Linked DNA regions of Homo sapiens. The protein of the gene in region 4 interacts with the protein of the main gene of each other region in a biochemical or structural test. Each region holds a gene or a part of one and is shown on either strand. Other genes may lie near its edges. The genes, in order: MAPKAP1, NDRG1, ASPG and SGK1.

Region 1 (7,752 bases), on a different chromosome or scaffold from region 4:
CCCCCAAAATGAATTGGAGTTTGCTGAGTGGAAAGGCAAACAACAATTGAGGCTTGAGGGGCTGTGAGGAAACTGAATGTGTGAAGGGACCTGATCCTTACTGCCCATCTTGGCGTGCCGGGCCAGAAGAGCTGGCATTTATGCAACACCTCCTGTATACCAGGCACTGTTCTAGTTACTCTCTCTGCAGTACCTCATGGAATTCTCACAACAACCTAGATGAGAAAACAGACACAAGAAAGGCAAGTAACTTGTTGAAGGCCACACAGGTAGTAGGTGTTTTTTTTGTTTTTGTTTTTGTTTTGTTTTATTTTGATTTTTTTGAGACAGAGTCTCGCTCTGTCGCCCAGGTTGGAGTGCAGTGGCATGATCTCGGCTCACTGCAAGCTCCGCCTCCCAGGTTCACACCATTCTCCTGCCTCAGCCTCCCCAGTAGCTGGGACTATAGGTGCCTGCCACCTCGTCTGGCTAATTTTTTGTATTTTTAGTAGAGACGGAGTTTAACCGTGTTAGCCAGGATGGTCTCAATCTCCTGACCTCATGATCCGCCCGCCTTGGCCTCCCAAAGCGTTGGGATTAGAGGCAGGAGCCACCACGCCCGGCCCGGTAGTAGGTGTTTTTGAACTTCTGCCCACTGACCCTCTCTAGTCCCGGGAACCAGAAGAAAAAGAACCTCCACCCCCTAACATGGCTTCCTTTCCAAGCTGGAGATGAAGGCTGTGAAGCCTGATTGTCATAGGTATGCCCAGGTACCTGTCCCGCTGCCCTGATGTCTATGGGAGTCCCCTAGCCAGCCCCTGGCCCAGCACCATCAGTGTGCTGTAAAAATGTTATTTTTGTGGCCGGGTGTGGTGGCTCACGCCTGTAATCCTTGCACTTTGGGAGGCAGAGGCAGGCAGACCACAAGGTCAAGAGATCGAGACCAACCTGGCCAACATGGTGAAACCCCGTCTCTACTAAAAATAGAAAAATTTGCCGGGTATGGTGGCGGGCACCTGTAGTCCCAGCTATTCGGGAGGCTGGGACAGGAGAATGGCTTGAACCTGGGAGGCGGAGGTTACAGTGAGCTGAGATCGTGCCACTGCACTCTAGCCTGGCGACAGAGCGAGACTTCATCTCAAAAAAAAAAAAAAAATTTGTATGTGTGTTAGCTCTCATGGTCCTACCACTGTACACCCCAGGTCAGGAGACAGGTCAATGTATGCTTTAATGACACTTCCACCAATACAACTCCTGCTTCTTGGAGGCTCATGCCATCCAATTAGTTTCTCCTCTCTCCTCCTCATCTACCTCCCCAGTGCTGTTCCTCAGTTGCAGATGCCATGGGGAGCACGTCTGGTTTCCTTTTCACCCCATGTCTGTCCACCATCTTGGGATGGACGTTCACAAGGATCTCAGTTCCTTGACTATCTCATCTTCAGTGATTTTCCCCCCATTCCACTTTAGCTGGGACCCCCTCTCACATGGCTCCTCCTCTGAGGTTATTTGTTGAAACATCCATCTGTGACAATAACCTCCATCCTTCTGCTTTCCTTCATCAGTGACTTCCATTACATCTATTTGAGACCTTTAGGCCAGTGATACCTGTTTTTCTGGAATTCTCTTGCTTCCCTATCCAGCATACTTTCTATGGCTCATTGTTTTAAGCACTCTTAAAAGCTGATATGACCCCATCACACCTGTCTGGCAAAATCCTTCCTTGGATCAATCCAACTTCTCATTCTTTGGGTGTGTGTATCGTGACTGCTCCAACTAGCTATAGAATAATCACACTAGCCATCATATTAGTATCACCATACATTTAGTCTCCATTCTCAACTGGGCCCTCAATACTGTCCTTGAAATCCTACCATATATCACTGCATGCCAACTTACCACAGTAACTACAGTATTTCAAACCCATAGTCGAACTTGACTACAAGGCTTCTTAAGGGTAGGGTCCCCGTCTGGCTTTTTCACCACTGAATCTCAATAGGCACTCAATAAGTATTGCTTACTGACTGAGGTATACTCATACTGGTAGGCATTAGTAAATAATAGTCACATGCCAGGCTCTGTTATATGTAAGCTACATGTATTAGGTCATTCTATCCTTGCAACAAACTAATGAGGTTATGTAGGACTTCTGTCATTCCCATTTTCCAGGTAAAGATAAGAATATTTAGAGAAGCAACTTGGAGAGATGAAGTCACAAAACTTGTAAGTGGCAGAGTGAGTATTCACTTTTTATTTTTCTAATTTTTTTTTCAAGACAGGGCATTGCTCTTTCATCCAGGCTGGAGTGCAGTGGCATGATCACGTCTCACTGCAGCCTTGACCTCCCAGGGCTCAAGCAATCATCCCATCTCAGCCTCCCAAGCAGCTAGGACTACAGGCATTCACCACCACACCTGGCTAAAAAAAATATATGTGTATATGTGTGTGTATATATATATTTTTTTATTTTTTATTTTTTTGAGACAGACTCTCACTCTGTTGTCCAGGCTGGGCTGCAGTGGTGTGCTCACTGCAACCTTCACCTCCCAGGTTCAAGCGATTCTCCTGCCTCAGCCTCTCAAGTAGCTGGGACTACAGGTGTGTGCCACATGCCTGGCTAATTTTTCGTATTTTTTTTTTTTTTTTTTTAGTAGAGACAGGGTTTCACCATGTTAAGACAGGATGGTCTTGATCTTCTGACCTTGTGATCCGCACCCCTTGGCCTCCCAAAGTGCTGGGATTACAGGCATGAGCCACCGTGCCCGGCCTATATAGAGATAAATTTTTTAAGGTAGTGATGGGGTCTCACCATGTTGCCTAGGCTGGTCTTGAACTCCTGGGCTCAGATGATCTTCCTGCCTTGGTCTCTCAAAGTGCTAGGAAATATTTACTCTTTAGAATCTATAACTGCTTAGCAGTTTTAGATAGGTCGAGTTTTATGTGTCTAGGAGACAGTCAGGCAGCTGTGCTTCAGATTGGAACTCGAGAGAGAGAGAGAGGAAAATGGAGAGTAAGATTTAGGAAGGAACAGATAACCTGGTGACCTCAGAAAATCAAATATCCAAACTTGTTCACACCTGCTGCTTTGTTAGAGTGCCTCTGACAGGTCCCTGATGGAACTGTGGTGGTGTGTGTGCAAGAGTGTGTCTGGGTGCTGAGGTGCACTATTCCCCCAGTATAGATATGTGGTAAGATACCAATTACATAAAGTAATGGGATGTAGTAAGAGATCAATCACATATGGTCATGCGTGGAATGAGGATGTTTTGGTCAATGACAGAGTGCATATGATGGTGGTCCCCTAAGATTATAACATGGTCTTTTAATTGTACCTTTTCTGCATTTAGAGATGTTTAGATACACAAATACCATTGTGTTAGAATTGCCTACAGTATATGGTACAGTAACATGCTGTACAGGTGTGCAGCCTAGAAGCAATAGGCTAATACCAAACAGCCTAGGTGTGTAGTAGGCTCTGACATTGTGTAAGTACAGTCTATGATGTTTACACAACCACAAAATCAGCTAACGATGCATTTCTTGTGTCCTCATCATTAAGTGATGGATGACCATATTTGAAATACATGGGTAGACCCACCGTGTTTTTTGTTTTTTTGTTTTGAGACAGAGTCTCTGTCACCCAGGCTGGAGTGCAGTGGCCTGATCTTGGGTCACTGCAACCTCTGCCTCCCGGGTTCAAGCCATTCTCCTGCCTCAGTCTCCTGAGTAGCTGGGACTACAGGTGCACACCACCACGCCAGACTAATTTTTGTATTTTTAGTAGAGACAGGGTTTCACCATGTTGGCCAGGCTGGTCTCGAACTCCTGATCTCAAGTGATCTGCCCTCCTCGGCCTCCCAAAGTGCTGGGATTACAGGTGTGAGCCACCGTGCCTGGCCCCATGGCATATTTATTAATAAGTTTAAAATTGGGCAGGGGTCCCTCAGGGCTGAAATTCAACCTTGAGTTTTTTCTTTTGCTAAGGTGCGTTTTTGAGAGACTTCCCCAAGCATCTTTCAGGTGGGAGAACCACTCTCACTGCACTCCCTGAATCCTTTTTCCCCCTTCATCGTGGCTTTCTCTACTGATTTCCTCCGTGAGAGAGGAAGGGAGCAGCATGAGACACACTGAACTTCTGCCCTGTGCCAGTCCTCCTACATCTCCTGGAAACCTCCCAGCAGGGCTTGAGGAAGATTATTGTCACCTCCATATTACAGATATTATAATAAGAGAAATAACTAACATTGACTGCATGTTTACTATGTGTCAGGCACTATGCTGGGTGTTTTTCAAGCATCATCCCATTCGATTCCCACAGCAATATACTCTAAAGTTGAAACTATTGCCCTGGATGGGAAAACCCGAGGCTCAGAGAGAAGTGTCACATCCTAGGACACACAGCAAGTTATAAGAGCTGGCATTTGAACCCAGGTCTTTCTCAGAGAGGCTGAGCTGCCTCATCACTCATTTCTGGACGAACTAAGGGCTTTTCTCCGTGGAAATGGGGAGAAAGAAGATTCGATGGAGAAGCCTAACACTGATTCCTGCTCAAGGCAAGTCCAGGCACTGGCGCATCTTGCCAGAACTCAGTCTCCGACCCAGGCCTTTCCCTGCACTGGAGAAGCGGCGCGCATGCGCCCGGCCTCCCTCCCGGCCCCGCCCCGCGGGAAGCTACCGCTCCTTGCTTTCAGCTCTGGGGCTTGCGCACTACGTCCCCAGCCAGAGGCTCCTTCCCGGTCGGGGACTTCCGGAACGCCGGGGTGTGGTTCCGGGTCGTGTGCGGCTCGGGGTAATAGGGCTGCTGCTCGGCCGGCCGGCGGCGGCGAGCAGCAGGGGCATGAGGGCTAACCCGGGAAGCGGCAGCTGAGCGGGCCGGGAGGAGCGCCGGTCCCCGTGGATCCCGAGAGTGCAGAGCTCGGGGCAGGGGCCGGGAGGCGTGGGGGAGCCGGGCCCTCCCCTCAGGAACGTGTCCCGGGGCCGACCCGGCCCGTAGTGTGGAAGCAGCTTCAGGTAAAGGTTGCCCCAGCCGCCAGCTCCCCGCCCGTCCGTCAGCCCACCAGCTTGCCCACCTGGCGGCCCTCTCACCCCTCCAGTTTCAGCGCTGCCCGGCGGGCCGCCTGCCGGGCCCTTGTTCAGGTGGCCCGGGCGCGTTCGTTTCCTGGCCATTTCCAGAACTGGAGGCTGTCAGGAGTCTGAGGCGGGTGTGTGGTTTAGGGGAAAAGAAGCCAGCTGACCTGGTAGTGTGGGGGTGGGGGGTGTAGTTGACTCCGGCAGTTTCTGGGCCTGCACTTGGCAATATCTAGGTGCCCTGGTCTTCATAATGTGAAAATCAAGGTTTTCAAGCATTGACTGTGTGGTCCTTGTTTCCTTGCGTCCCTTCTCCCCCTCCCCCTTAAAGAGGTTAACAGCCTTACAGACTTTTTTCTAGCTACAGTGCTGCTGGAACTTTGATTCATTCTTTGTTTATGGGAGTGGCAAGGAGTCATTTAGATTTGTTTAAGGCTGGGAAAAAGAGATTGTAGCGTAAACAAGATTATGACTTTAACCAGAGACCCCCAAATTGACTCAGAAATTGGTTAAAACTTCCTTTTGAATGAATGAAAGTCACTTTGGAAGCCCACCACAGTACCTGGCACTGTACAAAGCACCATGTTGTTATAAACCCAAATCGGCAAAGTTCAAAACTTTCCCAGGTGTGAAGAGTCAAATGGAGACCCATTGGTTTAAAAAAAGCAGCGTTCTCATTCTCTGACAAGCAGGAGAGGTGGATCCGTAATGTTAAAACCCACTTGAGCAGAAGCCTAGATATGGGTTTTATTCCTTATATTTTATGAGCCCACACAAGGTACCTAGTAAACACGGAAAGAGTTCTTGATGAAGCAATAATTGTTTTCATGTTTTTCAGTTTACACACCTGCGGGATTTGGGGCATGCTGGTAGCCCTTTCCCATTCATCTGTGTGCTCATGCCTACCTTCAACTACTGTGTGTCCCAGACTGCACTTACACCCCCTTACATCTCCTAATCTGGCTCCTGGTTACCTTTCCAGTTATGCTTGAAAAGGTCTCCTTCTTTAATTACCCCATCCTGATCCATTACTCTGAATAAGTAGGATCTCTAATCATTTTTGTTCTTTCCTATTCCATTGATTTTTGTAGAACATTCTCCCTACCTTGCCTAGGTTTCCCCTTTTCTCTTTCAGTCTATTGAGACGCTTCCCACGGCTCAGCTGAGTTGGCCTCACCCAACCAATTCAGGACAACCCCACCTGGAAATGATTTTTCCTCTAGAATTCTATAAGCGCTCATTTTTATCTACAATTATTTAACTTAGCAAATGTTTACTGAATATGGATATGTATATATATGCCAGGTACCATGCTAGGCAATTAGAGATAAATATAAGATTCAGTCTTTGCTGCCAGGGAGCTCAATTTAGTGAAAGAGAGATAAGGGAAATGAATAATTCTAACACCGTGATAAGTACATTGTGTGAGAGTTCTTGTGACAGTGGTAGGTGCGGGAGGGGAATGGGTTATTCACCTTTGAGGGATGGGATGTGGCCAGGTAATGCTTCATAATTTGAGGTAAACTAAACTTTGAGTATTTGGGTATTATATAGGGGTTTCTATTGTTTAATCATTTTAACCTCAATTTACAGATTAGGAAGACCCATAATAAATTACACAGCTGGTAGGAGACAGAGCCAGGATTCAAACCCAGGTCTGTCTGATGCCTAAATCTGTGCTTTTTCCATTACATGTCTTGCCTTTTTCTCACATCATCTCCCTCTTTTTATGCAAGTACATATTGAAACCAAAAGTTATATAGGACAAAACATATGAATGTTAAAATGAATGGTACAGAAATCTTTTAAATGTAAAGACTGTGCTCTTCCAAGGCAAGGAGATGGCAGGTAGGTTAGTTAGCTCAGCTTTGAATATGAGCAGAGAAGACAGTCTATAGAAAATAGGCATGGACTCTGGATTCAATTCCTGGTCCCTGTTCTTACAGGATATGTGACCTTCGACACATAACTCCAAGCATCACTTTCTTCAACTAGGGGTTGGGTTAGGGAATAATATTGACCACATGGAGTGTTGTGAATATTTATTGAACTAATGGGGATAAAGGGCCTGGTACGTGGTAAAGTCCCCCGAAATAAATAGCTATAAGATACAAAGGTATAATGCTTGAGGCATGGTTTTAGACTGGTGAGTGAGTTTACAGCCTGAGTCATGCAAGTCATTGCTTCTTTTAGCAGGGTACAAGGACGTAAAGTTGGAGGGGCGGTAGGGGTCAGAGTCAGTGAGGGCTTGAGTACCAGGCAAGGGAGGTAAATTCCAGTTTCTGCTAATAACTTTTCCAGTTAATAAATACTTCGAGGATCTACGATTCATTTCAGCAGTGCCAAGCAAAATGTTAGACCTTGGGGATACAAAAAGAAGTAAAATTGGGTCCCTATCCTGAGGTTATTGACATTCTAGTAGAGGAGATGTCTGTGTGTGTGCAGGTGAACCATAATAAAGTACTGTGGGTTCTAAGGTAGAAGTCCCCAGGAGGTACCATAGAACACTGAGAAGGAAACACTGATGATGGTAGGTAATGAGTACTTACTCTGCTGGTGTGATGTTAAATGCTTTATCTCATTTTTTTCTCGTGTGAGAAGGTGTTATTAGCATCCTGATTTTACAGATGAGGAAACTGGGGCACAGAGACCTTGAATAACTTCCTTGAGTTTATGCTGCTGGTAGAGCTGTAAGATAGAGGGGATTAT
Region 2 (7,020 bases), on a different chromosome or scaffold from region 4:
TGCCTGTTGCCATATGGCTCAGGTGGGAGAGCCAGACTTTGAACCCGGACAGTTGGACTTCAGAGCCTTTGTTTTTTTTCCATGACAACATGTTGGGGCGCCTGAAGAAATCAGGCTCAAATGAAAAGGCAGTCAGGAGCTCCATGCCTCAGTTTGCTTTTCTGTAAAATGAGAGTAACAGACATGATGCCATCAGAATGTGTAAATATTAATCTGTGTAACCTGAGAACAGCACTGAGCATGTGGAAAACAGCGTGTAGGTGTTTGCCGTCAGTAGCACCCGCAGAAGACATTCTCAAGGCATCTTCTTGGCAGGCAGAGTCTGGGACCCTTTGTCCTAAACCTACCCAAGGCTGTGAAAGTGCCTGCAAATGCTTGACCTAGGTATTGCTTTTTGCTAAGCTTATGTAGGTTGCATAATAGTGTCATGAAAATCTTGTCTGAAATGCACATTTCCAGGCCCGGTCTCCTGCGATTCTCTCTCCATCAGGGGATATGCTGTTGTTTCAAAGCTCCTTTGGCTGGGTTGGGAATGGGGTATCCTGCAGGCAGACAGAGTTGAGAACCTCTGCTCTGGAATGACAGGGGAGAGAAGAAGGAAGGTGTAGTCATACATGCCGCTGTACCTTCAGGCCACCCTGTGTCCACAGTGCCAGGGAATTAGTGAGTGCTCAGTAAATAGCTCTTGTTTGCTATAGTGCCTTGGAGGTTCAATGCATCACATCAGCTAACTGAGGTAGAAGACATTCTTTCCACCTCTCAGGTCAGAAAATTGAGGCTCAGGCTGGTGACTCTTCTGTCCAGAGTCCAGTGAGTGGGGTTCTGCCCAAGGTGAGCCTCCTGAGCCCTTTCCACCCTCCAACATTGCGCTTGGAGGCCACCCACACCCTCTGGGCCCACCTTTTGAGAAGGAGCTTGTTTCCTGGATCCACCCCAGGCTGTTGTTCCTGCCTCCCTTGATGGCTGTGTGATGGAAGTACCGCGTGTCCACTTGCTTTTTATCTTTCAACTTGGAGATAGAGGCAGGCTAGATAGCGGTCTTGGCTGAGAACTTAGCCCAGGCAGGTAGGCAGAAGGGCTGGGGACACTGAGGCCCCACAGGAAGGCGGCTGCAGAGGTAGAGGGCCATGAGTAGGTGCCAACCTGGAGCCGTGTTCTCGGGGTGGGGGCCATGTGAAAAGAAACCTGGGCTCCCTCGGGTGGGGCGTAAGCCCCAGCACTACAGAATGGGAATGGATTACACAATCGGGGCCATAAGCAGGTCTCTTTGACCCAGATCTTTGACTTTCCCACCTAACATTGTTTGCAGACCTGCCTATGCCCTACCTGCCTGGGCTCCATCTCTGACCTTTTGAGTCCAGCGGGTTTTCTTGCAACTGAGCTGGTAGAAAGTGAGGCTCCTTAACAGTCTGGGGGCCTTGAGTGCCCTCCCCAGCAGTTTAATCTTTCCTTTCTTTAAATCTGTGGGGAGACTTTCTGCAGCTATACATTTTAAATCTGCATAGAGTTCTGTTTGAAGAGAGGTGGGTGGGGGCCCAGGTCTCCACCTTGTTCTCCTGCCTTCACCCTCTGCCCCACCCCCACGGAACCTAAGAAGATTCCAAGTAACCCTCTTCAAATATGGATGTGAGAGGGCCATTTAAGAGGTGGGTCTATGGCCTCTCTCAGCTGGGAATGCTTACCATCTCTCCTTCCTCCTTTTTAATCATGGAACTCTCCTCCTTTCTCCAGAAAGGCCTCCTTGGCTGTCCTCTGCTGGAGGGGAGGCTGGGTTGGGTCCTTCCTGGGACCTGTCCATGTCTCCCATGAAACCTGAGAGCCTGTCCTTAGTAGGTGTTGTGTTAGTGGTGGTGGAAAGGACATCTCCACTGATTAAGGAAGTAACTTGGACCATCTTGCATAGACAAGATCGGAGGCCCATTCCGGAGGGTGGAAACTGCAAGACCATTCTGGGGAAGGATCCTGTTAGCGTGGCTAGCATCCCATCTCGGGACAAAGGGTTCTGTATGAGGAAGCCATTTCCTCGTCCTCTGCTAACACTGGCTCCGTTTGTGTGATTTCCACAAATTATCTCAGACCATCCAGCGCAGCTCATGCCTGTCTTGCAATTTCACAAAATAATCCTCTAAGGAGACCAGTGTCCTCCTTTGGACTTCCAGTTATTCACCTCGTCCCCTCAGACGGTCGTCTTCTGTCTGCCAAACAAATTACTCGTGCTGCCAAAACTCCACTGAGAATCTCCAGGAAGATCTCGGTTGTATTGCAGAAAAGAGGTGGGCCCTGACGAGATTCCTGACACCTCCCTCTTCCTGCTGTTGTGTTTGGGACACTCTTGCTGACCTCCCTGGTGCTGTGCTCAAGTTGAACACACAGCAGTTCAGTTTCAGCTCCAGCCCCTCTGGACCCACACCCAGGGAGTGAATGCGGCTTTGGCTTGTTTGAGAGGGAGACAGTGGGGTTCACCTTCTTAGTGATCCCTTTTTCATTCCTTGAATATCAAACATCACTGATGCCTCCTGGGTTTCAGGCTCCACTGCAAAGTACAGGGGCCCTCGAGGAGTTCCTACTGTGGTTTTGTTCTCTGACATTTGTACTGTTTCCTTGATTCTGATTGCTCTGATACAGTTCCCTAACCTCTAAACTAGGGAACTTTCTTGAAGGTCCAGTGAATCCACCCATATTGTTTGCTGAGTTGATTAGTTAAGAAAGACAGTTCGTGAAGACTGCCAACTTCCTCACCCTCCCCAGGGCCTTGAGTTTCAGAAGGGCCAGAAAACACCAAGAGAGCCCATGAACTGCTTTGTAGCTTGACTTCAAAATCTCTTTGGGCAAAGAAATGACAAAGGATTGTATCCACAGTAAGGCAGGGCTATCCAGGGCCTATCTCAAGGTGGTTTTCCTTGAGGTTCAGGCAGAAATGGTGCTGTTCTCGGCAATTTTCTGGGGAAGTTGCTACAGCAAACAGCCACAGCACATGTTGATTTTTTCCCTCCTTTTAAAAATCTGTTCTATAAAGAGCACAATGTGCTGGAGAGAACACTGGCTTTCATGTGGCCTTAAAACCAGGCATGTTACAGAGGGTGGAATCTGGGCCAGTTGCTGTTGGTGACAATCGATGCTACCCTTGTCAGCAATTCCCGCCTGCTCTCCCTTTATCTGCTTCACTGAAGGCCTCCAGGGGACTGTTGTCCGCCCTCCCCCGAGGGAATGAGTGCCACACCTGCACCCACAACAAACCAGTGAGTTTTTCACCTTTCCCTCAGTAGGGAGGAATCTAGACATGTGGCCTTTGGAAGTCAAGTGGGCCTTTGTGTTTGTTTTTGAGCCTCAGGTTACCCATTTGTGAACTGGGTATAATACCCAGCCTCTCCCGGGGCAACCTCCTTGAGGAGCAAGTGAAACAGTGTGCTGAGTGAATGCTTTTCCAAAGCATTGAGTTGGCCGTCTTAGGAAGGTACTATGGGGGAGCTGAAAACAGAGAACCTTCTGGGTGTTGTGAAGGGAGAAAAGTTCAAGATGCTGGTTTTGCCAAAAGCTCAAGCCTGCTCATGATGGCTCAGTGGTGACTGCAGGGTGGAGGAGAGGCATGTGACTGTCCCAGCTGACCTCCACACGCTGAAAGCCTCATGGTCACGTGCAGCCCACCTTACAACGTTGTATCTGGGCCACGGGTGGTGGTGAGGACTGTGGATATATTTAGGGCAATGTGAGATCATTGTCAACATTCCCTTTAAGGTTGCTTTAACCTTAAAGCAGCCAGCTTGATGCTTGCTGACTTGGGGCACACATCTTAACCTCTTGATGCCTCAGTTTCCCCGTCTGTTAAATGGTGACATGCTGGCACCTCCCTCCTAGGGTTTCTGTGAGGCTTAAAGGAAGTACCGGGTTTAGAGTCCAGTTAGTGCCACAGATACTGTTCCTGGTGCTGTTTTTGTGGTGTGTCTGTGTAGGGTTACATTGTTGCCTTCCTGTGGCTGCTCTTCCTGGTGGGCGGAACCTGGAACTTCTAGAACAGATCATGGATGTTTCTCTGCTGGATACCCCTTCAGCCTCACCCTGTGGGAGTTGTGGCGGGGCCCAGGAGAGTTTGCTCAAGAGGGTGTGCAGGTGGGTGGCAGAGCTGGAGCAAGGCACTAGTCTTAACAGACAGGAGTCTGAGGCTGGCAGAAGTGGGGGCCTTGGTCCAAGGTGCGGGGCTAATCTGGCCAGAGCTGAGCCTGGCAGGGCCTTGGTAAGACCCTGTGGCCCTTTTGTCTTGGTGAAGCACCTTCCTGCCTGGGTTTCCATTTGCCTGTAAGTTTGTTGTGGACAGCGTGATCTCCATAGACGTACACTGTGCCTACTTTACAGATGGAGAAACCAAGGCCCAGAGAGGAAGTGACTTGCTCAGAGTCATGGAATAGGAAAGTGGCAGGGTCCCCATGCCCTGATTCCTAGGCCAGCGTTCCTGCTGCCCCACTGAGGTTTTTGGGAATCACAGGCTCTGTGTGTCCCCCTCAGTCCCCCAGGGGCTGTTGAACAGTTCTCAAGTGGTGTCGGATTACTGAAGATGCCTCTGCCCACTGCCCTCCCAGGTCCCAGGGTCACGGGTCACGTTCTTTTCTTCCTCGGGCAGATCCTGGCCTTGGCTTTGCCTGGCACCTGTGATCCAGCTCTCCTCTGACTCTCCTGGGTCTGCTGGACTGGAAGGGTATTTGTGTAGCCCCTCTTGGGCCCTCATTACTCATTGACAGACAGTGCTGGTGGAGAGAAGGGCCCCAGTGGTGACGCACTGGGCCTGATAATCAGAAACCTTGGTGGCATTTGCTGAGCATTTTCCATGTGTCCCTCTCCTCGCTGGGACTCTAGGACTGAAACCCAGGCCACATCCTCACAGATGTCCTGGCATCTCCAAGGCAACCCTGAAAGGAAAGTATGTTGATGAATTAAGCAACTGTTTGCTTAATTCTCCATGCCATTCTTGAATTTAAGCCCCACTGCTGATCATTGGGAGCAGGAGTTAGCATGCCCATTGACAGACAAGCAAACTGAGGCAAAGAGGTTAGATAGCCAGGCATGGTGGCATATGCCTGTAATCTCAGCTACTCAGGAGGCCGGAGTAGGAGGATCACTTGAACCCAGGAGTTTGAGACCAGTCTGGGCAACATAGCAAGACCCTGTCTCTCTAAAAAACAAGATGAATAATACATTTTTAAAAAGAGATTCGATAAATTATGCAGGATCACAGAGCTAATAAATGGTGACACCATGGCCTGCAAGCCTTCCCCCAGCTCCTGGCTACCTTTCGCTTCTCTGGCATTGGTCTTCTCGGAATTCCTCCCAGGCAGGTGGATGGGAAAAGAAGTGAAGATACAGGCTGGCAGCTGGTGCTGTGACCTGGAGCCCTGTTTTTGGTGCTAAGCTGGGTTTTAGCTGAAGGAGACCTGCTGGAGGGGTTTCTTCTGTGCTTCTTGGGGAGCAAAGATGGCCTTGGAGATGGAGACACGGTTTGTCAGTCCCAAGCCACTCCAAAGGTGGGGCTGGTGGGCTAGGAGTCAGCCCTGGTTCCCCCGCCATGCTGTGTGTGGCCCTGCCTTGCCACCCCACCTGCTGGAGGACCTCTTTGATGCTTTCTAGTGGGTCCCAACATTCTGTGATTAGGACTTTGCATGAGGCAGAGGGAGGGCAGGAGCTGGAGTCCAGCAAGGACCTCAAGCCCAGGGACAGGCTCCACCTGCCACACTTGCTAAGCCGTGAGGGCCTCAGGTGCCCGGGAGGAGGGAGCAGGAGTGGAAGCACCAGCTCGAGCCGCCAAACCAGGTCACGTATCACCTGCCATTTCCTGCTGGCAGAAGGAGATCACAGACACCAGAAGACAGCAGCTTCTGCCAGAACTGGGTCCTTCCATGATTCTCAGGTGGTGACTTTGAATCCCAGAAAAAGTGTTTTGGGGAGAGTGGAGTGAAGGAAGAGTGTGAACATTGGATCTGACTCCACTCCAGCCCCTGTGCTGCAGCCAGCAGGGTGAGCTCAGGACAGCTGGCAGCCGCTTGGGCCCAGCCCCCTCCTCCGTGAATGAAGGTGGTGGGGAGTGCACGTGTGCGTGTGAGTGCGTGTGAGTATAAATGACTGTGGATGTGAGAGTCCATGAAAGTGAGAATGTATCAGTGTGTAAGAAAGTGTGAGTATGTGAGAATGAGTGTGTTTGTGAGAATGTATGTATGTGTGAGTATAAGTGTGTGAATGTGAGAATGTCTGAGTGTGAGAATGAAAGTTTGCAAGTGTGTCAGTGTGAGGGAATGTGTGAGTGCATTTGAGAGTGTGTGTGTGTGTGTGTGCGTGTGTGCACGCATGCACTAGATTAAATAAGAATGCATCCAACTGACATTTTCTGGATACTGTTACCTACTAGGAATTACTAAAATCAGCTATTCCAGAGGAGGGTGGATGTCGCACCAGGGGACATTTGGCAACGTTTGCAGATTCTTTTGCTGGTCGCAGCGTGGGGTGTATGCTGTGGGCATGTGGTGGGCAGAGGCCAGGGATGCTGCTGAGCCTCCTCCCGTGCTCAGGGCAGCCCCTAAGGCAGAGGCTGCTTGTGGGGCCCAAATGTCAGCAGTGCTGAGCTGAGGATCTCTGTCCAGGAGGCACAGACGCTGTCCTGGATGCTGTCCAGACAGCATCTGCTCTGCCCTCCAGGGGGACAGACAGACAGTGGACACAGCCCAGATGCAGCCTGATGAGTGAGCCCAAGGGAGTGCCTGTCCCCTCGGGACTGTGAGCTCCGTGGGGGCAGGAACTGGGTCTGTTTGCTCATGATCCCCAGATGAGTCCCATAGCCAGTCTCATCACCATAGCTGGTGTTATTTTTGTTCTGAGCTCTGTGTTGGGCACATAGAACCTAGTGGGTAGAAACCTCTGAATAAATCCTGAGTTTTCCATCCTGCTTCCGTGAACTCAGATGTTCTTTGAGGGCCAGCCTGGTGGCGTGGGGGCTGGGAGTGGGCAGATTGTAGGGAGCCAAGTCCTGGGGTGGAGTGG
Region 3 (7,020 bases), on a different chromosome or scaffold from region 4:
GGGGGCCGGGCCTGTGGCATCAGCCTCCCACCCCCACCCACATGGAGCGGGAAAGTCGGCAGAACCCTGGGGGCTCAATTGCTGCCAGAGTGGCGGCCTTCAGCTCGAGGACAAGCATGTCCTCTGGGGAGCCCCTCTGCATGGACGGGTTCAAGGGGCACTGACCCCAAATAGCCATCCCTCCCCACTTCACCTGGGGCCTGCACCTCCACCATCACCCACCCTGGGTGTGGGGAGGGGGTGATGGGCACACATTAGGATTTTGGGGTGAACTGGATGGAGGCCTTCTCTCCCCAGAGGTGAGGGGTCCGAAAGTCCATTTGTTCGCTCATTCAACCACTGACCCGGTGGGCAGTGGGCACAGTGGGTGCCTGGCAAGGGGCAGAGGAGGCTGGCTGGTTCGACGATGCTGCCCCATGCCTGTAACCCAGCGCAGTGACTGCTGGTGGCTCCCCAGCTGGGCATGCCTGCCCTCCTCGCCTCTGCGCTCGCCTGACGCCCCCATGCGGCCTGCAAGACACAGCCGGGCCTCCATCTCTGCAGGACCCTCCTGCCCCTCGCCTGGCCAGCGGAGTTTCCCTGGGCTTCACCCTTGAGACTGTGTTGCCCATTGCTCGGCCATCGGTCTCTCGCTGGCCAACGAGTGCCTCCTCCCACAGCCCCGTGCACGCTGCGGAGCCTGGCACAGGCCGGACTGCGCGGAAGCCCGGGAGGATTTGCCTGCGGGAGAGGAGGCAGGGCGAGGGGGCTGAGCCGCGAAGGCTCAGGGCTCTGAAAACAAGGGAGGAGGCGGCCTGTGCAGAGGGCCAGGCACTGGGCTGGGGTCTCGGCTGGCAGGAGGCCTGAAGGCACCACACAGGCCCTTCCCTGTCCTCAGTCAACAGGGAGCTGGTGCGGAAGGTGGACGGGAAGGCTGGGCTGGTGGTGCACAGCAGCATGGAGCAGGACGTGGGCCTGCTGCGCCTCTACCCTGGGATCCCTGCCGCCCTGGTAGGGACCGCCCCGGCCATCCTGCCCCTGCAGCCCTGAGCCCCAGCCCTCTGCAGCTCCCACGGCCCTCAGGCTCCCTGGGGCCCTCACCAGCCAGTGCAGACCCCGCGTGGACCTGAGATGTCTGCAGTGTGGCCCCACCAGCCCCAGGCCCTGTCCCCTGTCCTCCGTCGTGGTGCTTTCCAGCCTCTCGGGGAGTGGGCAGGGTTGGGGCGCGGCTCACAGCCAGAACGGGGTCCTCCATGCTTTTCTAGAGGCAGCGTCCTCCCGCAGATTCCAGCTGGCTGGGAGCCGCCCCTGCTGTGCTGGACAAGGGTGTTTGCTCTGGGGCCTCTGATGGCCTTCTTGGCTCCTCTCCCACCTCTCTGAAGTGTTTCCACGGCGTTCTGCCACACAAAGCCTTCGTCCCTACAGACAGGGCGACCCTTTGGGAGAATGTGGGGGGAGCAGCCCCCTCCAGGTGCCAGCAGCCATGCACGTCTGCCAGGAGCCCCACTGTCCCGGGAGCAGAGCAGGCACCAGCTGCCCCTGGCTTGGGGTCCCTCTCCTTGGGAGGGCATGGGGCGAGTCTCAGTGGTGCTGAGGGCAGAGACCCTCACCATCCAGCCCCCACCCCACCGCCCCACAGGTTCGGGCCTTCTTGCAGCCTCCCCTGAAGGGCGTGGTCATGGAGACCTTCGGTTCAGGGAACGGACCCACCAAGCCCGACCTGCTGCAGGAGCTGCGGGTGGCCACCGAGCGCGGCCTGGTCATCGTCAACTGTACCCACTGCCTCCAGGGGGCTGTGACCACAGACTATGCAGCTGGCATGGTAGTGCCGGGAGATCAGGGCCTAGCGGGGAAGGGGACAGCCTGAGGGCCTGGCAGAGGTGGGCTCTGACCCACCCCTCATGGGCTGGGGGCCGTGGTGAGTCGCCCTTCCTGCCCACACGCCCCCTCCTCACAGGCCATGGCGGGAGCCGGCGTCATCTCAGGCTTCGACATGACATCGGAGGCCGCCCTGGCCAAGCTATCGTATGTGCTGGGCCAGCCAGGGCTGAGCCTGGATGTCAGGAAGGAGGTGCGGGCGCTCTCGGGCTGTGGGCAACCCTCGGTGTGCACAAGCATGTCAGTTGGCTCCCAGGGGCATGTCTGGGGCGATGCCGGAAGAGCCTGGGGGCCGGTCCAGGGTGTGTCCTGTTTGGGAAGGGGAGGGATGTGGCTCCCTATAGTGGGGAAGGGCAGCTCTGGGCCCAGGCTCCCCACAGCCCTCACTGGACTCCCAGCCCAGGCTCCGCCTGTCCTTGTGCCTTCTCAGACTGCATGGAGACCTGAGGCTCCCCTAACTGTCGCCAGGAAATCCTCTCCTGCTCTCCACTCTTCCTCGAGGGTGGGGTTCAGACACAGCTGGCCCCAGACCCTTGGGTTGCCAGCCTCTGGGGCTGGACGGAGGCTTTTGGGGCCCCTGGAGACCCTGAGCTGGTAGGGCCAGGGAGTGGGGCTGGCCTTGGGAGGGGACCCAGCCCGCTCTGGCCCGAGGGATGAAGCACACACGGCCGAGGCTCAGGCCAAGGGCAACCCCTGACTGTGCCCGGGTAGCCCGACCCTCCAGGCTGTCCTGGGCTGCCCATCCAGCCCTGGCAGAGCCACTTCACCTCTGTTCTCTCCACCAGCTGCTGACCAAGGACCTTCGGGGGGAGATGACGCCACCCTCGGTGGAAGAGCGCCGGCCCTCACTGCAGGGCAACACGCTGGGCGGTGGGGTCTCCTGGCTCCTCAGTCTGAGCGGCAGCCAGGTAATGGCGTGGGACACGGGCCTGAGTGGCAGCTGGGGACTGTGCACCCTCTTGGTCACCCTGGGATGCACCAGGCAGGCACGAGCCCCTGTAGCCATCACTCGAGCCCAAACAGTTAGGCACACCCGGGTTCTGGGGCCCAGGAGGAGGGTTTGGGGTCTGCAGCAAGGAAGGTTTGCAGGGTCTATAAGGCAGGAGGCAGGAAGGGCCAGGCGGTGGGCACACAGCAGGGAGGCCTTCTGACTGGCGGCGCTGCCTTAGTGCGGGGCTGCCTCGGGAGCTGCCTGTCCAGAAGAAGGGCGGGTGAGTGGGGGCGGTGCTTGCTCTGGGCTCTCCCAGGCTCTGAGCACCAGGGGTTCCAGGTGAGGAACCCGGAGGTGAGGGCCAGCCTTTGAGCACGTCCCCTGCACAACTGAGGTGCCCAGACCTAGGAAGGGGGGCTTTCGAGGCCTGGGGTCTGCAGGGGGATGGGGCCTCCCTGGACCCCGCAACATGCCCCCTTGGCTGCTGGGCCAAACATCCAGGCCTGACATGGGGCCTGGCAGGCCAGACAGCCTTGCTCCCCACTGTGTGGGGTCCTGCCCCGGCCTCAGTGCCTCGGTTTCCCCCTACAGGGATGGACCTGTCTTGTGAGCCATGTGCTGGAACTGCCACTTGCTGGGGCGGGTGATGGGCAGATGGAAAGGACTGGCGTGCATGGCCTGTTATTAGGGTGGCTGCATAGGGCCTGAATGCTGTAGGGAGGCAGGCCAGAGGCAGCAGCCTTGTCACCAGGCCACGTTGTACCCGCTGGGTGTGGTGGCACCTGTGGGGCCTCTGCCAGGACCGCTGGGTGTGGTGGCCCCTGTGGGGCCTCTGCCAGGACCGCGGCCTTTTGGCGTCTTGGGGAGCTCCTGGTGCCCGGTGCTGGGGGCAGGTGGCTCTTCTGGGAAGGTGCAGCCGTGGGAACAGGGCCTTCCTTCCAGGGGAGGGGTCTGGCTCTGCTTCCCACGCTCTCCTTATGTGGGTGACCATTCCGTCCCGACGGCGGTGGGAGCAGACGGGGGAGTCTGGGAGGGTGGGTAGCAGGTACTGGCCACACACCCGTTGGGGACAGGGCTGGATGGTGGTCTCGTGGCCTGGCCTTAGCTCCAGGGGAAGGGGTCCTAGGTGGGCCTGGATGGGGTGGGGTGGTGAGGCTCAACCCCAGGCCTTCCGATGTGGCAGCTCAGGTTCCTTCTCACCCACGCCCTGGGATCTGCGGGCCCTTGTGTGGGGGCTGGCAGGGGTCATACAGCACCGGGGACTGCCAGTTCCACCAGATGCCAAAGGGAGGCGTGGGTCCCAGGGTGCCGCCTTCCCCACCTAGGAGGCAGATGCCCTGCGGAATGCCCTGGTGCCCAGCCTGGCCTGTGCTGCTGCCCACGCCGGTGACGTGGAGGCGCTGCAGGCGCTTGTGGAGCTGGTGAGCCTCCCCCACCCTGGGGGCCCAGCCCCAGCCACGCCTGGCCTGGGGGCTCTGAACCCTGTAGGCAGGACGGCCTTTCATCCACCCACTGACCACACTAAGCCCTTGTCAGCCAGACTGGGCAGCAGGACTGTCCTGCCAGCTTGTCAGGTCTCACTGAGGCTTTGAGGGTGGGCGCAGGGGCTGTGCTGGGCCCTACCCTCAGAGGGACCCCACCCTCCCCATGGCCTACCTGGCCCCGCCTGGGTCTCCCTCAGGGGTCGCATGTCCTTGTGTTACTCCAGGGCAGTGACCTGGGCCTGGTGGACTTTAACGGCCAAACCCCACTGCACGCGGCCGCCCGGGGAGGCCACACAGAGGCAGTCACCATGCTGCTGCAGAGAGGTGTGGACGTGAACACCCGGGACACGGATGGCTTCAGCCCGCTGCTGCTGGCCGTGCGGGGCAGGTAATGGAGCTAGGGCTGCACAGAGCTGCCTTGGACAGGTGGGCGCAGAGAGGCTGTGGGCTCCTGCACTCAAACAGCCTCCCGGGGCTGGGCTGGGAGAGGTGGAGGACACCTGCTTCCTAAAGGCTGCCCCCGCAGCCCGGGGCCCAGTAAGACCCCGGCCCAGAGTTCCTAGAAAACAAAAATGTTGTGGACAAAGCTGGGAGGACACGGTGCATCTCTGTGCACCTGTGGGTATGGGGGGCTGGGGTGGAGGTGGGGCAGAAGGTCCTGGCCCAGCAGCCAGACGCGGTCAATAAAAAGCAGGCTACGTGGCAGCAGATCTGGGGCTGTGACAGGCAACTCGGGCCCTGGAGGACAGGCCCAGCCTGTGCGTGTGGGGGTCCCCTGCCCCACCAAGCAAGCCCTGGCTGGTGTCTCTTCCCAAAGTCCAGAGCAGCAGCAGAGACGGAGTGTGTGCCTGTGCCCCTGCGTGGGGGGCGGGGCCAGCACTGGTGGGATCTGCGTCCCGTCTCCCCTTCCTACTCTTTATTGCCCCAGCCTGGGAAGGCCAACGACCTGTCTGCTGGTGCCGCTGCCCGGACCCATGGGCTGCTCAGAGATCCCAGGGCCCCTGGGGATTCCTCCCTGTGGGTGGGAGGACTTGGCCTGCAGGACCCTGGGTTCTTTTCGGGGAGGGAGTGCTCAGGAGTCCCATGGAGAGAAGGCCGGGGTGTCTGAGCCTGGGGTCATGTGACCCTGACGTGTTCAGTTGTGGGTTCCCCTCCCCAGCGGTGAAGCGGTGAGCCCTGGGGTGGGGTGTGGCACCTTTTGTGAAGTGGGTGACTGGGGTAGAAGGTTCTTTCCAGCCTCCTGTGATCATTGACAGGGTGCTCAAAAGAATAGGAGAGAACAGGGTGGTGGACAGGAGGGGGCGGGGCTGTGAGGGTCCCCCCGAGCAGGGCTGGGGTGATCCGGACTGGAGCTTCTAGACTGGGCGTCCTTGGGTGTGGGTGGGTGGCGCGGAGACGAGCTCACACAGTCCCGCCCCCTCGTCTCCTCCTGACTCACAGGACCAGGCTCACAGCACGCCCCCAACCGGTCTCCCAGCCTCGCTCCGCTGCCAGGCTCCCTGAGGCCGCCTGCCTGGCCCTGCTGTGCCTGAGTGGGGTATGGGGAGGCCACTGCCTCATACCTATTCCCAGGCTCCCTAAATGGGGTGATGGGGGGATCTGTGGTGCTTTGCAGGGGTGGGGGCACGGCCAGCGATTATGGCACAGTCTTTAGGTCACCCTGTACAATGGGCTGTGTGGCCTCCGGCCTCGGGCCTTTGTGCCTCTGCTCCTCCTTGCTAGAGCCCCGACCCCACCCCCACAGACTCCACTGTCCGGGTGCCCTGCCCCCACTCCTACCCAAGGGCAGTCGGCCGGATTGATTCAGTGTCCCCTGCGCCTGGCTGAGGAGGTCACCACGGGGTGTGATCAGCGTTTGGGTGTGCAGTGGGGCCGGTCAGCTCATGTAAGGCTGTCCTCTGAAATGGGCTGTCCCCTTGGAATGGGTTGGGGAGACTGCCCTGGGAGGAGCTATTCTGCTAGCACCAACTAATGCCCTCCCCTGGGTGCTGGGTGCGGGGCTGCCACAGAGTTGACCCCACCCCTTGCAGACCTCAGCTGCCCTAAGAAGGAGTACTGGACAAATGGAGGTGGTGGGATCCCGGGATGATGTCACATGGGCCTAGGCAGAGGATGGGGGGATGGGCCCTTGTCTGAGGCTAGGGCTGTGGGGTCTTGGGCCGGCCGGTCCCCGTCCCTGTGCACAGGACATGAGCTCTGCTGGCTCCTGAGTGAGGTGCAGCGGGGCTGGGCTGGCCAGGGCAGAAGGTCAGCATGCTCATTCTCACACAGGCATCCGGGTGTCATTGGGTTGCTGCGGGAAGCCGGGGCCTCCCTGTCCACCCAGGAGCTGGAGGAAGCAGGGACGGAGCTGTGCAGGTGAGTGCAGCTAGAGCACCTGCTCTTCCAGGGATGTGGGGGACACAGCTTGGGGAAGCGAAGCCAGACCTGCTGGGAGGGACAAGTGAGTCAGGGTGTGGGGGCTTTCAGAGGCGAGGCCCGCTGACCTCAGTGTGCACCAACCTGGCTGATGGGAAGAGGTGTCTACCCTGGACCATGTCATGGGGCAGGGGAAGGAGTTGTTCTCAGCTGAGCGAACAGTCCAGCAAGGGTGTCTCTGTGTGCACATGTGTGCATGTGTGTATGCATGTGTGTGGGTGCATGTGTGTGTGTGTGGTGGGCTTGAGGAGGGGTATGGGAATTGGTTGTCGGGTGTGAGAGGGGCTGGGGTGTGGACTGGGGGGTGGCTGGGGCTGCATTTGGGGAGGT
Region 4 (7,600 bases):
AAAGTTAGCTGGGCATGGTGACACGCACCTGTAATCTCAGCTACTCGGGAGGCAGAGGTGGAATGATCGCTTGAGCCCAGGAGGTTGAGGCTGCAGTGAGTCATGATCACACCACTGCATTCCAGCCTGGGTGACAGAGAGAGACCCTTTCTCAAAAAAGCAAATAAAATAAAATTAAAAAGGGTCTTTTGCATGTACAAAAACAAACCCATAATCCCCAGCAGGGTTTCCTAATTCTTCATTAAATACATCACTACCACTGTGGCTGGAGTTTTAAGCATATGATCGAGTCACTCAGGCCAAAAAGGAATGTAAAACATTTCTCATGAGGTGATGTATTTTTATCCCTTTCTCCTTAGGGACATTTGTCACTAAACAGATACTTTATTGTTTGTTATCTTTTGTGTATTCTGGGGTGCTATCGAAAAAAATTACATTCCATTCAACAACTAAATGTATCACACAAAAACACTTTAATCTATGGGAAGATAGACTTTCTAAAAAGTATTACAGTGGCATATGCCTCTTGCTTTAGTGAAACAAAGAAATGTAGAGTTATTTATTACTTTGCAAAACCCTTTCAAATATAATTTGGTACTGACAATTCCTTTAGGAGGTAGGTGAAGAAGCATTTTATTATTATTATTTTACAGATGAAGAAACTGAGGCTTAGTGCGTTGAGGGAACTTGTTGAAGGTTGCACAATTAGGGAATGGAAGTGAGGTAGAAGATGTTCCAAATCAATACAGCAGTCTTTCCACCGCAGGTACATATTGGTAGTTAGTCCTACCTAGCTACTTTATTTTATTCTTTGTGTGACAGCCTAAACAATATTGTTGGGAGGAAAAGTAGGTATACCACAAAAAAATCAAATAGAGGTTCAAGGGATTCTTTTTGTTTGTTTGTTTATTTATTTATTTATTTTGAGAGAGTCTTGCTCTGTTGCCCAGGCTAAAGTGCAGTGGAACAACCATGTCTCACTGCAGCCTCAACTTCCCAGGGTCAAGCAATCCTTCCACCTAAGCCTCCTAAACAGCTGGACCACAGGCATGCATCACCACACCACCTATTTTTTTTCCTTTTTGTAGAAATGGGGCTTTGCTATGTTGCCAGGCTGGTCTCAAACTCCTGGGCTCAAGTTATCCTCCTACCTCGGCCTCCCAAATTGTTGGCATTATAGGCATGAGCCACTGTGCCTGGCCCAAGGGATTATTTTTAACATTGGGATTTTCCATCAAAAAGAAGTGTCATCCCAGGGCTACAGTGTCATTGAGGCTTAAAGAGGAAATGGTGAGGAGTGAGGTCGTTTGCTCTTACTGGAGCTCAGCATATTGGCTATCATGGGAGAGAGCTTAATGACTGAAGAATCTTAAAGGTATTTAATGATTCCTGCAAATGGTCTGGTGCCAGGGTCACTGATGTCAGCTATACTTACTTTTGTATTTAATTCGTTTGAAAACCATTTGTTGAGTGCTAGCATGGCCCAGGCACTCCGCTGTGTGCTGGTGCTACAAAAATAAATAAGTGTGTTTTATGGGAACAAGAAGTGAGTTAATTAATTAAATTAAGTTTGATTTATAAACAAGATGTTGCATGAGTCCAGAGTTTTTTTTTTTATTATTATAAGCAGGAGCCTGTGCTCCTTTATAGGTATCAACAGTGGACCTGTCAAAGGAAACATTTAGTAAACAGTAGTCACTCTGGGCTTACCTGAGGGCAGCTTTACTTATGAAAATAGAGGTCAGAGTGAGATGAAAGATGCCTTCTTTTCCTGAATAACCAACACAGTGCAGTTAATGCATTTCTCTATTATTGCACCAATCAAAAGATAATCCAAAATAATTGGCTGTCAGATATAGTCAGAATCCCTGCCCTATACTTCTCTTCCTTCATCTGACTGACCTACTCATTCTTTAAGGCCATGCACTAACATCATCCCTTTAGGTAAATTTCCTGGACCTCTCTTACCCATCCAGCCCCACCCTTCCCCCCTCCAAATTAAGGCAGGGTTGATGCATACACACCACACACACACACACACACACACACACACACACACACACAGAGTAGTACACTCTTATCCATGGGGGATACATTCCAAGACCCCCCCCATGGATGCGTGAAACTTCAGATAGTACCAAACTCCATATACATTATGTTTTTTCCTGTACATACATACCTATAATAAAGTTTAATTTATAAATCAAGCACAGTAAGAGATTAACAACAATAGTAGAATAATTTTAACAATGTACGATAATAAAAATGATGTGACTGTGGTCTCTCTCTGTGTCTCTAAAAGTATCGTATTGTACTCACTGATTTTCAGACCATTGTTGACCTTAGGTAACTGAAACTGTGGAAGGTAAAACCTCAGATAAGGGAGGACTACTGTATATAGTATTCTTACCACACTGTATATTTCTCTACTAGGCTGTGAGTTCCTTGGTGACAAAAACCAGTGACACTTACATGCACTGGACCTTCCATAGGATCTAGCATAGACCAAGTGACAGTGGCAGCATCTTCAAGAGGTGGCATGGAGTGAGGGAAAAGATAGCATTTAGCTTGTCTTCTCCTCCCTCATAATCTCTATTAACCACCCGCCTGCACCCCAAATGAACATACATCCTACATGAAACCAGGGTATTAGTCCGTTCTCACACTGCTAATAAAGACATAGTGAGATGGGTAATTTATACAGGAAAGAGGTTTAATTGACTCACAGTTCAGCATGGCTGGGGAGGCCTCAGGAAACTTACAATCAGAGCAGAAGGGGAAGCAAACACATTCTTCTTCACATGGCATCAGGAAGGGGAAGTGCTGAGCAAAAGGGAGAAAAGCCCCTTATAAAACCATCAGATCTCATGAGAAATCACTCACTGTGGGAACTACAATTCAAGACGAGATTTGGGTGGGGACACAGCCAAATGATATCAACCAGTATGCATGCTAGGCCAATGTGGGATTAAGCAAAGCCCCAGCACCTCCTTCCTAGCAGAGTGCTTAAAGGTCCCCTCCTGTATATTACTCAAATTCAATAAATGTCTGTTAAAACACTTTTGGGGGAGTGGCAATGGGACGAAAAAGAAAGAACTTGAATGACCATCATTTTTTAAAATGAGGTCCATTGAGGTATAATTTACATGCAGCAAAAGTTTCCCTTTTCCTATATAAAATTTGATGAGTTCTGACAAATGCATAGTTATGTAACCACCACCATCATCATGATAGAGAACACTTCCATCGTCTCAAAATAATTCCCTTTGAACTACCATAATTTTAAATGAACTCTTTAGAAGAACCACAAAAACTTATCAATGTTGTAGATTACATAACATATACTTGCATCTTGGACAACTTAACATATCTCTCCAAAATGAATAGTTGTTTTCCCTTGGTTATCATGCCATCATTTAGTTGTATTGCATTTTCTTTTTGGAAACCTCAAGGCATTTAGCAAACAGGATTTCATGTTTATTCCCAAAAACTCTGGCCCAACTGTAGAGATTTATAGTCCAATTCAATGAAACCCATGCATTTCTTTCCCAGTTTAACCTGATGTTTCTCTTCTTACCAGAGACTTCCATGTAAATACTTTAACAATGTTAGGTGTGTTATATATAATGAGGTCATAATCAGTTTCAAATTAGCATTGCGCCTTTCACTTATTTATCAATTATATTCCCTTGTGATGATTATGAAAAGGCTCCACATCCTGAGGACACTTGTCAGAGTTAGATTTATTAATGGAATGAAATAGCAAATAATGAATGACTAAATAAATGAATGAGTGAATGAATGAATGAGTGGCTGCCTCCATTTTATGGATGAGGCAGTGTCCGAAAGGCACAGTGAGGTCAGGTGATGGCAGAAAGCCACACACCGATGTTGGTGGCTTTCTGCCAGGTCAGATGCCAAGTTTATTTTCTTTGCTTTCTTGCTTTACTATCAACTAATCTTTAAAATCATTCCCATAAAATATCAACATTAAAGAATAAAAATGGAAAAATAAGCCACATACAATTAAATGGCTTTTTTAAAAGGAGCTCAGTGTGCAAAGGATAACATGAGTAAGGATTTTTTGGGAAATTTTTCACCTAATAGGAAGAATGCTTTACTCTTTTATTTATCAAACCTTCCTCATCATTAAATGGATTCAGTAGTACTTTTTGGTAATAACTCGTGTGTGTGTGTATGTGTGTAATAAAGTACTTTGTATATGTTCATTGTGTTCTTTTTTTAATAAGCTGTTTTAATGAAAAAGACACAATTACCGTCACCATTGCCCACTATATAATGACAAGTAGGGGAGGGGAGGCTAAAAGAGCTTCTACATAGTGAGAGATCTTCCATTGTTATACCTACGCTTGCACTTTATTTCATTTTCTTCCACGTTTGGACAGGTCGAGATTAAATGTGATTACATTTCCGTTGAGAGGCTTTTATTCAGCAACAGGATTCAAAAGAATGTCAATGAGCATAAAATAAAAACGGTGTGCAATTTATATGAAACTCTGATTTAAATGGTCCTAACCAAAAAAAAAAAAAAAGAAAGAAAGAAAAGAAGCTATTTAAAGTAACCCTCCCAAGGGGAGTCAACTGCTCTTCAGTGTGCCCTGAGCCGGCTGTGCCTTCTCTCCATCCGCTGCTCAGATATTCATGAACCGTTGCTTCTTCCAGCCTCGCCTTCTCGCTCCCTCTGCCTTTCTGGCGCTGTTCTCCCTCCCTCCCTCTGGCTTCTGCTCTTTCTTACTCCTTCTCTCAGCTGCTTAACTACAGCTCCCACTGGAACTTGCACAATCAAAAACAACTCTCCTCTCTCAAGCCGCCTCCAGGAGCGCATCACCTGGAGAAGAGCGACTCGCTCCCCGCGCCGGCCGCGGAAGAGCAGCCAGGTAGCTGGGGGCGGGGAGGCGTACCCTTCTCCCGCTCGGTAAGAGCCACAGCATCTCCCCGGAGATTGGCCGTATCCCACCGTCCGGCCCCCAGGGTCCTGCAGCGGTGATGCATATGTTTCGGAGCAATGATGGAAGGAGAAAAGCCGCTGTCGGTGGCAACTGAAAGTGGGGAGAGGTTGCTGCAGTAGCTGGTGCTGCAGAATGCGCGAGTGAAGAACTGAGCCCCGCTAGATTCTCCATCCCGCTCAGTCTTCATTAACTGTCTGCAGGAGGTAAACCGGGGAAACAGATATGCACTAACCAGGCGGGTGCCAACCTGGATCTATAACTGTGAATTCCCCACGGTGGAAAATGGTAAACAAAGACATGAATGGATTCCCAGTCAAGAAATGCTCAGCCTTCCAATTTTTTAAGAAGCGGGTAAGGACAGGTTTTGCTTATTTCTTTTGTTTTCTGTGCTTCTCTTAAATGCTTTTGAATGTTTGCCTGAAGTAAGCCTGAGGTTTTGTTGCTAAACCCTTAATGTAAGCCGTGCTTCTGATGGCAGTGGTAAAGCTGAGAACTATACCTGACTTGATTAGAATTTGTTGGAGGAGGGGCAGGGGGCTATGAAGAGTTGCATTGGGAGGAGGGGGTTGGGCTGAGATGCCTTAAACGGGTTTGAGCTGGGAATGGGGATTTTTCTCTCTCAAGCCACAACAAAGATTACAAGGCAGTCGCAAAGAGAACTGGCTTGAGTACAATTATGGCTAGTAATTTAGTCAGGGGCTAATTTAGCAGCTTCCTCTCATCTTTGAAGGGTTCAACTTTTCTACACCTTTCATCCACTCAGTCTCAAGTGATGCATTATCATCTTCGTTCGTCAGAAGCAGCAGCTTCTGGTTTCCCAAATCCATTCAGCCAATAATTTGCTGTGTCTCTATCTGTGGTATAAATAGCAAAGGAGTAGAATGACCTTTTACAGAAATGATGGAATCCAGCATTTAAAATTGTCTATTTTAAGTTGCCTCAATTTTTGCTTTTGCTTAGAATAACTGCCTTTTTTTTTTTTTTTTTTTTTTTTTTTTTGGGAGAGAGCAGTGGGAGGTCTGTATTTGAGTGATAATTCAGGGTTATGTTGCTGTATGCATTTATTTCTTAAACTCCTTATTCTTCAACTCAAAGTATGAATAATGTTGCATTGGTTGTAGGTGAGAAAAAAGGATTTTTTTGCATGTATATTTCACAATAAACTCAGTTCACTGGGATGGCCACACTGGTGGTCTGTGTAAATCTGCAAATTTATACACAAGCGGGAGGTAAGAAATGAATGATTGTTAAAGGAATGACACTGACACTCTTAAGGACAGTGTTTCCTAAGCAACGTAAGAGAAGGAACATCCTCCAGTCCCCAGTTGCCCCATCCTATTTAATACCCTAGGGCAATTCCACCAAAATGGTTCTCTCCATTCATTCCTCCTTCCTTTCATTCAGGTCCTTTCTGTGCCACTCCTGAAACACAGCCCTTCAGTTAACTCATCCGCAGAACACAGTGAATTTCAGGGTGGGCTGGACTATCTCCCTGCACCAAATGGGCAAGCTGGGAAGGCAAGGCTAGAAATGCAGGCAACATGTCAGGCCCAGCTAGAGGGCCAGCGAAGGCTCCCAAGCACCCTTGACTGAGTTCTCATCAGTAAAGCAAAATCTTTCTCCAAGTCTGTGGGCCAAAGCATATGCATTCAAACCAAAATGAAACCAACCTGTCCTGGCCCCTGCTCTTGGAGTGGGAGTACCATGTGAAATCTCACTAGTGAGCTGCAAGCTAAGTGAAAGCAAGTCAGTGCAACTTCACAGAGCTCCACAAGGCTTCTTAGTTTTTCTCTGTAGCTAAAATATTTCTTTCCAAGGGAAGAGCCCTTTATGAAAATTAATTTTCTTTCTTTCTTTTTCTTTTTTTTAGAGACGGGGTCTTGCTATATTGCCCAGGGTGGTCTTGACCTTTTGGGCTCAAGTGGTCCTCCTGCCTCAGCCTCCCAAATTGCTGGGATTACAGATGTCCACCACCAGGCCCAGCCCTAATTTTCAATAATAAACAAATGTTTTGCTAATTTTAAAAATGCCATAGCCCATTATCCAGTATTTAAACTCTATTGCCTTTTAATTACTGTATTTATTTCATGGTATTGGGGATATTCTAAAACTCCTCAGTCAGATGTTCTTAAGCAATGTAGATTTAAGTTACATAAATTTTAAATTGTCTTTTATTTTCTTTGTTATCAAAATGTACTAATAGAAATACTAATTTGCCATTTGGTTTTGTTTTGCTTAAAAGCAAGTTTACCAATAGACTTCAGTTGGTGACTCTGCAGACCTTGAATTTTGCAGAGAACCACCCAGGGTACTGATGTCTTATCTGAGTACATGCAGAAAGAAGTTTCTACCAAGATAACTGGCAGGCAGCTTCATCTAACTTCTAACCTGGGTCTATCAGTTGCTGGAGACAGGATCAGACATCTCTCCTGCCCCTGCGCTCTCCTTACTCCTCAAGGACAGTTAACTAAGTAGAAGGTGACCTTGTATCAAGTCATTGAATGCCCCAGGGATAAATTCTTTGATTTTTGTCTACTTTGGTTTATTCCACAAATTCTGTATTCTAAATGTTTATTTCTGCTTGTACATGACTTTGCTTTTTTTGTTTGTTTGTTTTTAGTTAAACAATA

The links.
Region 1: the proteins of SGK1 (region 4) and MAPKAP1 form a complex in vitro, tested with the Homo sapiens proteins (one study listed by BioGRID).
Region 2: of the proteins of SGK1 (region 4) and NDRG1, one has a biochemical effect on the other in vitro, tested with the Homo sapiens proteins (one study listed by BioGRID).
Region 3: the proteins of SGK1 (region 4) and ASPG form a complex in vitro, tested with the Homo sapiens proteins (one study listed by BioGRID).

The regions. Positions count from the first base shown.
Region 1 is NC_000009.12:125,704,205-125,711,956, reverse strand, and holds the start of MAPKAP1 (target of rapamycin complex 2 subunit MAPKAP1), read left to right. Parts: upstream 1-4,748; 5' UTR 4,749-4,986; intron 4,987-7,752. UniProt on the Homo sapiens protein: Component of the mechanistic target of rapamycin complex 2 (mTORC2), which transduces signals from growth factors to pathways involved in proliferation, cytoskeletal organization, lipogenesis and anabolic output.
Region 2 is NC_000008.11:133,287,243-133,294,262, reverse strand, and holds part of NDRG1 (protein NDRG1), read left to right. Parts: intron 1-7,020. UniProt on the Homo sapiens protein: Stress-responsive protein involved in hormone responses, cell growth, and differentiation. Acts as a tumor suppressor in many cell types. Necessary but not sufficient for p53/TP53-mediated caspase activation and apoptosis.
Region 3 is NC_000014.9:104,102,686-104,109,705, forward strand, and holds part of ASPG (60 kDa lysophospholipase), read left to right. Parts: intron 1-877; coding exon 878-990; intron 991-1,618; coding exon 1,619-1,801; intron 1,802-1,936; coding exon 1,937-2,050; intron 2,051-2,642; coding exon 2,643-2,765; intron 2,766-4,113; coding exon 4,114-4,209; intron 4,210-4,496; coding exon 4,497-4,660; intron 4,661-5,712; coding exon of another isoform or gene 5,713-5,809; intron 5,810-6,016; coding exon of another isoform or gene 6,017-6,157; intron 6,158-6,543; coding exon 6,544-6,630; intron 6,631-7,020. UniProt on the Homo sapiens protein: Exhibits lysophospholipase, transacylase, PAF acetylhydrolase and asparaginase activities.
Region 4 is NC_000006.12:134,315,113-134,322,712, reverse strand, and holds the start of SGK1 (serine/threonine-protein kinase Sgk1), read left to right. Parts: upstream 1-4,600; 5' UTR 4,601-5,252; coding exon 5,253-5,321; intron 5,322-7,600. UniProt on the Homo sapiens protein: Serine/threonine-protein kinase which is involved in the regulation of a wide variety of ion channels, membrane transporters, cellular enzymes, transcription factors, neuronal excitability, cell growth, proliferation, survival, migration and apoptosis.